2 separate regions of the Homo sapiens genome follow, and region 1 is linked to region 2. The links come from fine-mapping of genetic effects on gene expression. A gene starts in region 2. The other region holds a variant in brackets. All regions are shown on one strand. Distances are from middle to middle. Region 1 overlaps WFDC3 (WAP four-disulfide core domain 3). Region 2 holds the start of YWHAB (tyrosine 3-monooxygenase/tryptophan 5-monooxygenase activation protein beta).

Evidence for each region.
Region 1: its variant is fine-mapped to the expression of YWHAB in lymphoblastoid cells after a statin (CAP, PIP 0.93).

The regions. Positions count from the first base shown.
Region 1 is chr20:45,773,658-45,779,034 of GRCh38, forward strand. WFDC3 (WAP four-disulfide core domain 3) reads right to left here. Exons shown (of 7, transcript NM_080614.2): 5 at 3,418-3,552; 6 at 1,760-1,945; 7 at 556-787. The coding sequence ends at 771. It also overlaps the pseudogene RNU6ATAC38P. Among named protein-coding and RNA genes, the nearest start is that of WFDC3, 16 kb to the right of the region's middle. RefSeq lists enhancers at 1,920-2,089, 4,293-4,587. The variant G/GTGTGTGTA (reference allele first, on the strand shown) is at 2,661.
Region 2 is chr20:44,883,566-44,888,942 of GRCh38, forward strand. It overlaps YWHAB (tyrosine 3-monooxygenase/tryptophan 5-monooxygenase activation protein beta), which reads left to right and starts at 2,140. Exons shown (of 6, transcript NM_139323.4): 1 at 2,140-2,321. RefSeq lists silencers at 1,764-1,823, 1,884-2,433 and an enhancer at 1,870-2,486.

The DNA.
Region 1 (5,377 bases), 890 kb after region 2:
CTCGGGAGACTGAGGCAGGAGAATCACTTGAACCTGAGAGGCAGAGGTTGCAGTGAGCCAAGATTGCGCCACTGCACTCCAGCCTGGGCAACAGAGTGAGACTACATCTCAAAAAAAAAAAAAAACTAGCCACTCACCCTTGTTCCACCCTCAACCCACATTCTCCAATAAAAGAAAGAAGGTCAGCAGGTCTAAAAGAGACTGACCTCCACCCCCACCAGGGCTTGAGAAAGACATCTATGGCAAGTCACTCTCAGTTTAGTTTCCACCCTCAACCCACATTCTCCAATAAAAGAAAGAAGGTCAGCAGGTCTAAAAGAGACTGACCTCCACCCCCACCAGGGCTTGAGAAAGACATCTATGGCAAGTCACTCTCAGTTTAGTTTCCACCCATCTCTTCCCTAGCCACACCCAACCAAAACCCATTTTCAGTGTCCTCACAAAGAATGGATTACCCATCTGTCCTAAATATGTAAATCGTACAATCCCACAGGCACACACATACCCTCTAGCTCTCCCATATCATCTGAGCCCTCAAATAGCACAAACAAGAGGTCAGCACCAGCCTTTATCGGGAAAGAGAAGCACCACACACCCACTACCCAATCCAGGGCTATTTCCCATGCTCTGGTCAGCGGCAGGAGGAGAAGCAGAGCAGAGAGGGCCATGAGTGCCCCTGGAAATGTCACAAGCCCCAGGATGTCACCCTCTCTTGACTGCCAGGAAAAGCTTCCAGAATTACCAAAGAAGCTCCAGACAAATCAGCACAGCTAGGGCACCGGGATCTCTGCAAGTAGAAGAAACATCAAGTCACAGCTGTGCCCTCCTGGCTTCAGCTACCTGAAATGTTTTCCCTCCACCCTAGGAAAGCTTGGCCTATATTGCTCTCAAAAGTCTTAAATAGCTCCTTGCTTCCCAGACAATCCAATCCAAACTGGCACTGAAGGCTCTTATTATTCAGATGTCAACCTTGTATCTCCTGTTATAAAAAACTGGAATTATGGTCGGGCACAGTGGCTCATGCCTGTAATCCCAGCACTTTGGGAGGCCAAGGTGGGTGGATAACCTGAGATCAGGAGCTCGAGACCAGACCTGGCCAACATGGTGAAACACTGTCTCTACTAAAAATACAAAAATCAGCTAGGTATGATGGCAGGCGCCTGTAAATCCCAGCCTTGGGAGGCTGAGGCAGGAGAATTGCTTGAATCCAGGAGGCAGAGGTTGCAGTGAGTCGAGATTGTGCCATTGCACTCCAGCCTGGGTGACAAGAGTGAAACTCCATCTCAAAAAAAAAAAAAAAAAAACTGGAGATACGTCTGTTCCTTTACCCACCCTGCCCCCACTCCTCACCTCCCAAACATATCCCACACATTCCCACCCTGTGTTCCTTTGCCAGCAATCACCAGATTGCCTATCTGGCATGTCCCTGTGCTATCCTCCCTTTGTCGCATCTGCCTAGCCTTAAGCACCTCAATCAAATCCCACCTCTCCCACAGAGACCTTCCCAGGGAGCCACACCTGGGAACAGGTGTAAGCCTGTACTGTTTATATGAGGGTTCTCATCTGGGACACAGGTTTGCCACACCTGAGAACAGGTGTAAGCCTGTACTGTTTGTATGAGGGTTTTCATCTGGGACATAGGTTCTTTCTCTCCAACTAGACTTTTCCTGACCTTCTGAAGTCCCCTTCCCAGCACCTAAGCCAGTGCTTTGCACATAGCAGTTGTCTGTTATTGTTGATGACAATGGACTGTACTCACCTAATTCGGAATCAGACCTCACAGTCCAGTTGGGGTTCATGGTCAGTTTTGGGGGCAGGACTGGTGGGACACAGAAGCGGCCACAGCCTGACTTGCAACATTTTTCTCCAGCTTGACAATTCTCATCCATCACACAGCCAACAATGCACAGGCCCACCAGAACTTTTGGACAATCACCGCCCCGCCCTGTGGGAACAACAGGCACAGGAAAAGGGACAGGGCATCAGCTCTGCCATCTCCATGTTCCCATCGTGAACTTACACACAGAGGCTCTAGGTCAATCAACCCCTGACCCTCACTAGACCCAACTAAACTGGCTGGGAAACCATGGCGCTGGAGGATCTCAGAATCTTTAGGAACCCAAGAGACCTCTGAGCCCAGAGTTTTCAAATGGTGCCCCAAAGGGAGTTCCCAAGAGGTAACTCAGGGATTGACACCTCTGCAGGTTTGGGGTGGGGGTGGGTGAAGTGTGGCAGGGGCAAGCCTCCCAGACCACTCCCCCTCCCCCTATGCTCTGGATTCATAGTGTCACTTCTTCACGGTGGCCTCCTCTGCCACCCTAGACAAGGTTTGATGTCCCTGCTTTGTGCTCCTGTAGCACCCTGTATGCTTCCTCTCATCAAACTTTATCATAATCCCTTATTTAAAAGGAATATGTCTATCTTGCCTGATGGGCTATAAGCTACATACGGACAAGAGTCTGTCCTCAGCCTTGAGCACTGCCTGGGAATCTAAAGGGACTAAGATAGCACAAGGGTCAATGATTCTTTAATGGAGATCCACAGTGCCTGGCACTCAAAAATATTTGTTTTTTTAAAATGTTGAAGAAAAAAAGGCATTGGAACAGGAATGCTTTTATCTCTGTGTGTGTGTGTGTGTGTGTGTGTGTGTGTGTGTGTGT[G/GTGTGTGTA]TGTTTCCAGCTGGGCGTGGTGGCTCACGCCTGTAATTCCAGCACTTTGGGAGGCCGAGACAGGCAGATCACGAGGTCAGGAGTTCAAGACCAGCCTGGTCAACATGATGAAAACCCATCTCTACTAAAAATACAAAAATTAGCTGGGCATGGTGGCGTGTGCCTGTAATCCCAGCTACTCAGGAGGCTGAGGCAGAAGAAACCCCAGAGGCAGAGGTTTCAGTGAGCCAAGATCACGCCACTACACTCTAGCCTGGGGTACAGACCAAGACTCTGTCTCAAAAAAAAAAAAAAAGAAAAAAAAGAAAAAAAAAAAAAATATATATATATATATATATATATATGTGTGTGTGTGTTTCCAACTAAGATTTCATTTGGGGCAGGGGAGAAGCTTTTTGTTAAAAATTAGATCTGAAAATCAGGATCTTGGGCAACTCCTTCATTTTACAGATAAAGAAATTTGGGCTCAAAAAGACGGGTTTGCTTACCTAAGGTCACAAAGCAAAACCTCAGCAGAATCAAGACCAAAAGCCACACTGTCTGTCTTCCAGCCCAAGTAGTTCCTACTGCCCCACAGTGCCTTCCCCCAGTTCTTTTAATGTCGACAGGGCCCCTCGGCCCTAGAAGAATGGGTTGCTTTGGGTTGGGGGACCAGAGGGACAGGAAGGATGAGAATCCTAGCTCCTCCCAGGAAGGGAAAGAGAAGCACTCTTCTCAGGAAACACTCAAGGATTTCTTCCCAAAAGAGCCAACATACCTCCCTCAATGTCTCCGAGGCAGGTGCGGCCACAGCCGGTGCTGCAGCATTTATGCCCCTGGGGACAGGATGCATCCCCATCACACAGCTCCTCACACGGAAGGGGGTCAGCGGGACATTCACCACCAAACTCTGCTACATAATCAAAGCATTGGAGCCCAGAGACGCTCACAATATGAAACACATTTTTCATTGTGTCCCATGTGTATGTTTATATATAGTTATATATTTATATACATATATAATGTAAATATTTATGTGTATCATGTATCTGCAATACATCTGATTTTTTTTAAGACAGGGTCTCACTGTGTTGCCCAGGCCAAAGTGCAGTGGCATAATCATAGCTCACTGCAGCCTCAAACTCCTGCATTCAAGGGATCCTCCCACCTCAGCCTCCTGAGTGGCTAGAACTACAGGCACATGCCATCATGCCTGGCTTATTTATTTATTTATTTTGTAGAGACAGGGTCTCACTGTATCACCCAGGCTAAAGTACAGTGGCACAATCATAGCTCATTGCAGCCTGAAACTCCTGTGCTCAAGGGATCCTCCCACCACAGCCTCCTGAGTACCTGGGACTAGAGGCACAAGCCACCAGGCCTGGGTAATTTTATTTATTTATTTTGTAGAGACAGAGTCTCACTATGTTCCCTAGGCTGATATCAAACTCCTGGCTCAAGTGATCCTCCCGCCTGAGCCTCCCAAAGTGCCAGGATTACAGGCGTGAGCCCCCCCACCCAGCCCACCCTGATATTTTATATTCTAGTTCTTATTTTTCCTAATTACTAAATTGCTTTCAGGACTCACAGTTTGAAAAACACTGTTCAGGTCTAACCCACTGTGGCCAACATTCTCCCTGAATTCTCCCTGTGGCAGACATTTACAATGGTGGCCTCCAGTGAACTTTACCTCCTGGGATTCAGGCCCTTTTGTAGTCCCCTTCCATACCTACTCTGGGTTTGACCATCTGACTTGCTTTGACCAATGGGACATTAGCAAATGTAATGTAAGCAGAGCCTTGATAAGCACTAGCATACTGGGGCTTGTCCACTCAGAATACTTCCTCTTGGAAACCAGCCGCCATGCTATAAAGCAGCTTGAACTACGCTATGGGATGATGAGATGCCCCATGGAGACAGAACCTAGAAGAGAGGTCATCCTGGACGTTGTGGCTCCAGTTGAGCTCCCTGCTAAGCTCCCAGATGAATGCAGCTAAATGAATGACCACAGCTACATCATGTGGGTATATGAACTGCCCAGCCAAGCTCAGGCAACCTACACAACTGTGAGAAAGAGTAACTATATTGCTTTAAGTCATGAAGTTTGGAGATGGTTTCTTATGCAGCAATAGATACTGGATACCAAGTTTATTCTGAGAGGCAACAGGTCCAGCTAAAATGATTTGTTTCCCCATACTCTCTTGCAACAAGGGGTGACCACAAACTAGGACATAAACTGGGAAACTTTTGTATTCCTGACACAGGGAATACCCCTTTCAAACTGCTCCCTCACTTCTTTCTTCTTCCAGTCCAAAGATAGACATTACACAGAGAGGCAGAGTAGCCTTCTTTCAATGAGGAGGCAACTCAGCATAACGAAATGGTCAAGAATTGCAAAGAGGTGTTGTATGAAAGGAGAGAAGGTTAGCACTCCCCTCGACAAGGATGGAAGAGGCCTTTGGGCCTGACAACATGCATATGGTTCAAGCATTGCCACCTACTTTGTGGCATCTAACCATCGTCTTTTAAAATAAATAAATAATAAAATGTAAATGTAAAAAAAAAAAAAGAATTGCAAAGGAGAAAGAGGGAAATAGTTTCATCCTTGTTAGCATCATGGAGCCACCATCCCAGCCTCAGGAATTCTTGTTATATGAGAAAAACAAACCCCTATATGATTAATTTTCTGTTGTGTGCAGCCAAACACATTTCCTATGAAAATAAACTCAGAGAAGAAT
Region 2 (5,377 bases):
TCTAGGGTCTGCCAAAGACGATCCTCATGGGGAAGTTTTTGCACTAACCTCTCCAGGATTCAAATCCAATGGTTTTGACCCAAAACCATGCTGTTTACGTTACACAACACGTTCTCAATCTTGTTCAACTTAAAAGGTGGCACAGTACAGGGGTCACTGGCACACATGCCTACATGACAGATAACATAAGTGACAAAAGCAGACTCAGGTCGAGAAGGGTCCCTGGCATTTGGGAAAGTCCATGCCCAGTCTAGAACAGGCAGCCACTCCTTGGCTTCAGCCAATTGTTGCCACACAGAAATGTGGACACAGTGTTACCAGACAAGGCAGAGAGGCAGATTTCTGTTCACACAGAAACTTTTCAGTTTAAAAAAGTGTTGGCAACTAAGTCAAACTGCTTAGAAATACTGGAGATGGCATATTGGGAGGGTAAGGAATCATCCAATTGAATTGGGGTATTTACGATGGGGGAGAAATAGCAGCTAAAGGATAAGGGCAGCTTTTGGAGAACCCTGATTGTCACACTCAAGGAACTTATATATTGTCATCTAGGTCTGAGTGCACACTAAATAATTTAAGCAAGAACAGGACACGATTAGAATGGTATTTTTAAAAGATCACTTGGCAGTTGACGGGCGAGGCTGAGACCAAATGGTGAATTAGAAGTCTGTCATTTAGCTAAGTAAGGGTAAAGGCAAGACGGCAAAGGCCTATTTACTTGGCTTTTTCTCCTACCCGACTGCAAACTCCAAGACAGCAGGGCCCCACCTGCCTTGTTCATTGCTGTGTCTCCAGCACTAAGCAAAAAGCCTGTTCAACATTTGTTGAAAGAATAAATGAACAGGAGAGAGGGAAGGCGAGAGGCATTTTGAAGGACTGAGTTTAAAAATCAACTACCTTGAAGCCGGTCGAGGTGGTTCATGTCTGTAATCCCAGCACTTTGGGAGGCTGAGGCGGGTGGATCACCTGAGGTCAGGAGTTTGAGACCAGCCCGGCCAATATGGCGAAGCCCCGTGTCTACTAAAAATACAAAAACTAGCCGAGAGTGGTGGCATGCACCTGTTATCCCAGCTACTCAGGAGGCTGAGGCAGGAGAATTGCTTGAACCTGGGAGGCAGAGATTGCAGTGAGCCAAGATTGTGACACTGCCTGGGCGACAGAAAGAGACTCTGTCTCAAAAACAGAAAACAAAACAAAACAAAACAAAACAAAATCAACTACCTTCAGAGGAGTAGAATGTTGGTAATTGTGAGAGCAGTCATGGAGGGGAGGGGAGCCATGGAGGCCTGTTTCCTTCCCTGAACTTCCTCAACGAGGGGGCATCTTAAAGAAGAAATCATGTACACAGATTTTTGTGGGTTTTTTTTGGAGACAGGGTCTCACTCTGTCTCCCAGGTTGGAGTGCAGTGGCATGACCATAGCTCACTGCAGCCTACAACTCCCGGCCTCAAGCAATCCTCTCACCTCAGCTTCCCAAAGTGCTGAGATTACAGGCGCGAACCACTGCGCTCGACCCTACACAGGTTTTTTAAAAAGACGTTTGTGCATTGGATTCCTGGCACTTCACGTGGCCTCTTCAGTCTACCAAAGAAGGAAAAGGTAAGTACCCTGAAGGATTGAAAGGATTAAATGAACATTGAGGGATGAGCAATTTCTGTTCTTCCCTGGCTCCAGCATTACCAAAGCACACAGTAAGAGGACTGACATCGGCCTCCGACCCAGTGAGGATTACTTTCGGGGTGGAGGGGGAACTGCTAAACCTCGAATCTCCGGGACTGGCCCTGGCGCGTTTCCAGTCCCAGCAGAAAGGGCAATCCCCATCCAGACCACACTCCTAGTCCTCCTTATTCCCACACAGCCCGTATCTTGACCACCCCCAGCTCCGCCCTCTCTCCTCCCACCTCCTTTTCCCGCTCCCCCGCCCCATTTCCTTCTTCTCCGCCCACCTCCTCCTGGGTCCCTCCCCCGGCCATCCGCCCTGCCCCGGCCCCTGCAACCCTGCCTTTCGCTCTTCTTCCTCCTCCCTTCCGTCTGCGCCCCTCCCGTGGGGCCGTGGCAACCCCGTGCCTCGCTTGCCCAATGAGAACACGGTTTGGGGCGGGGCGCGGCCAGGACCGGAGCGGAAGTGGCGATCGGAGCGGAAGTGGAGCTACCGCCACCGCCGCCGCCGATTCCGGAGCCGGGGTAGTCGCCGCCGCCGCCGCCGCTGCAGCCACTGCAGGCACCGCTGCCGCCGCCTGAGTAGTGGGCTTAGGAAGGAAGAGGTCATCTCGCTCGGAGCTTCGCTCGGAAGGGTCTTTGTTCCCTGCAGCCCTCCCACGGTGAGTGCGGCGCGGGGTCCGACCGGGGCCCCCGGGGGCCCAAACTCGAAGCCCCTCTCTGGCTGCTGCGACGACGGCGGCCCAGTGGGTGGGCCCCGTGGGGTAGCGGCGCGCTGCCTCTTTCGCTCCGCGCGGCCGCCGGCGGCGAGGCCAGACCTCGCAGCGGCCCCTCCCTGTTTCCGGGGCCGGGCCCTTTACCTCTTGGAGAGGCTCGGGCCGCCTGAGGTCCTGCCGGCCGGGCGGGGTGCAACTCCGTACTGTGCCGTAAGGGACAGCGGAGCCGGGGATCCCGGACCCTCCCTCACTATCTGCTTCGGGCCCCACGCGACCCCTCCCTGCGTCTTGGTCGGCAAGAACGTCCCCTTCAGCCCTGTCACCTCTGCTCCGTGCTTTCTGGTTTCCAGAAATTAAAATTTAATCAAACGCGGATGAGTTTTCTAGCCCCAGTCCCCGTGTTTGGCTCCTCCTGGATGAGTAAGGGGTTTAACCTTGGGAGACAGCAGTGGGGGAACCCCCTCCCATTTTGCAGTAAAACCATTTCATCATCCTTCACTGGTTATGGAGCCTGGCAGGACCCAAGATTCCCTAGGAAGGGAATTGGGTTTGAATCAAGAAAATCTGTTTGTTGGAGCCGGTTACTGAGTCAGGCCGGATCCCCAGGAAAAAATATCAGGGGGTGAGAATCGGAGTATTTTCTCACAGTATTTACCGTCATTTAATGCCAGATTCTTTTGTGTCTTTACCCCAAATTCCCCCATATTGTGTGTTAGCACGTTTTTCGGTCTGAAATTTGCCCGGTGGCTTCCTGGTCGGGGGGTGGGGAGCGGAGGGAAGAAGAGGTGGGAAGGTGAGTGCATCTTTGCCGCAAATGGAGAACTCCCATATAATGGGGTTTTCAGAGGTGGCAGCCTTGGTAAGCAATTTGCCAACCTTTCTGTAAAATACATGTTTCTTGTCGTTGCCTTCATTGCATTTCTCTTTGGTAAGGCTAGATAGCATCAGGTCCTGATTTTGCTTGCCCTGTGTGGGAGATGGAATTTGGCAAGATGATGCTATGAACATAAAATCAGCCTCGGGAACCAAAAGAGAAAGGTGAAGCACTTATAAGAATATGAAAATTGTCTGCATTTCTCATTCTGTCAGTTCATGTGAAGCCAGACACAGATGCAGTTTGTAGACCTGGACACTGCAGCTTTTGCATTTTCATTTGGAAATGTGTATAAGTATTTGTTCTTGGTGAATTTCTTCTTGACTGCTTCCAGTGTACCCTATTTCTTACTTAGGGATATCTCATTTGTTTGAGCCCTCATTTTTCTTGGATCCCTGTCCTTGGCAACACACGGTGTGTGAGTGTAAAACCTGTCAATCTTATTGGACCTAAGTTAGAAATTTAAGTGTGGCTTTCAAAATGGAAGGCTAATAATCCTGTAGCAACTGCAGAATTATTTTCCTGGCCTGTCCTTCCAATGAGATAAGAAACCATTCACCTATCTTGCAGATGAAGTCTTTATGAGAAATGAGGTGATTTGGCCTAGACTATACACCTAGTTTTTTTCAAACTGAATATCCTCATTCATCAGTAGCAAATATTTATGGATTGCCAGCCCCTGGAGTATGACGCCTACCCTGTAATCTTTTGTACATTTCACATCTTGCAGTGCTTGTTATATTGAAGCCATTTTAGAATTGGAGCGCTATAGATCAGGGAGGCAGCCTCTATAAAACCAGGCTGAGCAAATTCCCATGATGCTGGTTCTCTAGGCAGAGTCTCCAGAGATTTGGGCCGCTACAAAAAGTGCATTTTGCCCATTCGGCTGTGGATAGAGAAGCAGGAAGAGCACTGGACTTGGAGTCAGGTAAATTTGGTTGAAATCTTGCCTGCAATATTTTCTAGCTTTCTGAATCTTCAGCATGTTAATCTCTGGTTCTTGGTTTTCTTATTTCCAGGGTTATCATTAAGCCTTTTTTATAAACTGTAAATTGTTAAATATAAGCTTTTGGTTTGTTTTTTAATCAGAGTTCACTATTAATGGCTTTTTCTCTCCAGTTAACATCTGATGACACTAAACCCTGCTTTGTACACATGTTGCTTTCAAAAAATGGTATATTATTATAGGACTTTATTTTGCATATAGGCAAATCCAGTCTTTCTGAATCATTTTCTCGTCTATATAGCACAAATGGTAATGCAGCTTTTGATATATTTTTGTTGCGACAAGCTCAATAATGAAAATAAGCATCTGGGATATAGTTGGGGTTCAATAGATGTTATTGACCATCTGCATGAATATACACGTGTATAGATTAGACATAGCATATATGCTATTCATGGACATTTATATAGAATCCATCCATTTGTGATTTATTCACCAACTGATGAGGTGGTATCAGACAATTAGTCTATAATAATAGTTACCACTTACAGTACTTACTGTGTGCTAAGCTTTCTTTTAAGCACTTTAAGCATATTAGCTCAGTCTTCATAACAACCAATGAAAGGTAAGACTGTTAGCCCCATTTTACAGATGGGGAAACTAAGGCACTGAGAAGGATAATTTTCCCGAGGTCTCACACACAGCGCAAGGTAAGTGCCAGAACCAGGAATGAAACCAGGTGATCTGGTTCTGAGGAATGATATTATAGATTTCTGCATGTGGTAGAGACAGCACATGTATATGTTTTATGTGAACACCATTTAGTCCTTAATTTTTCTTTACACCAATCCTAATAAAGTAAACGTTTGAATGGGAATATTAGCTATTTTTGAAGATAGATACAGGACAATTTATTGTGGAGCATATACCCATTCTGGCCTGTAGGGATGATAATTGCTAGCATGCATCAGGAAGCAAGCTTGTGAACAATCCAGTTTTTCTAGTACTTGCTTCATACTAGGGAGAAAGTCATCAGTTACTTTGGCATAGAATTTTAGGTTCTTCATCTAATAGAATTTGATTGTGACCATTAATTTTTGTTTATCTTACGACTTCATCAGTAGATGTTCAGATTTTTCTCATTTTGTTGGCAGGGAGGAAATGAGGAAATATATCTACGTA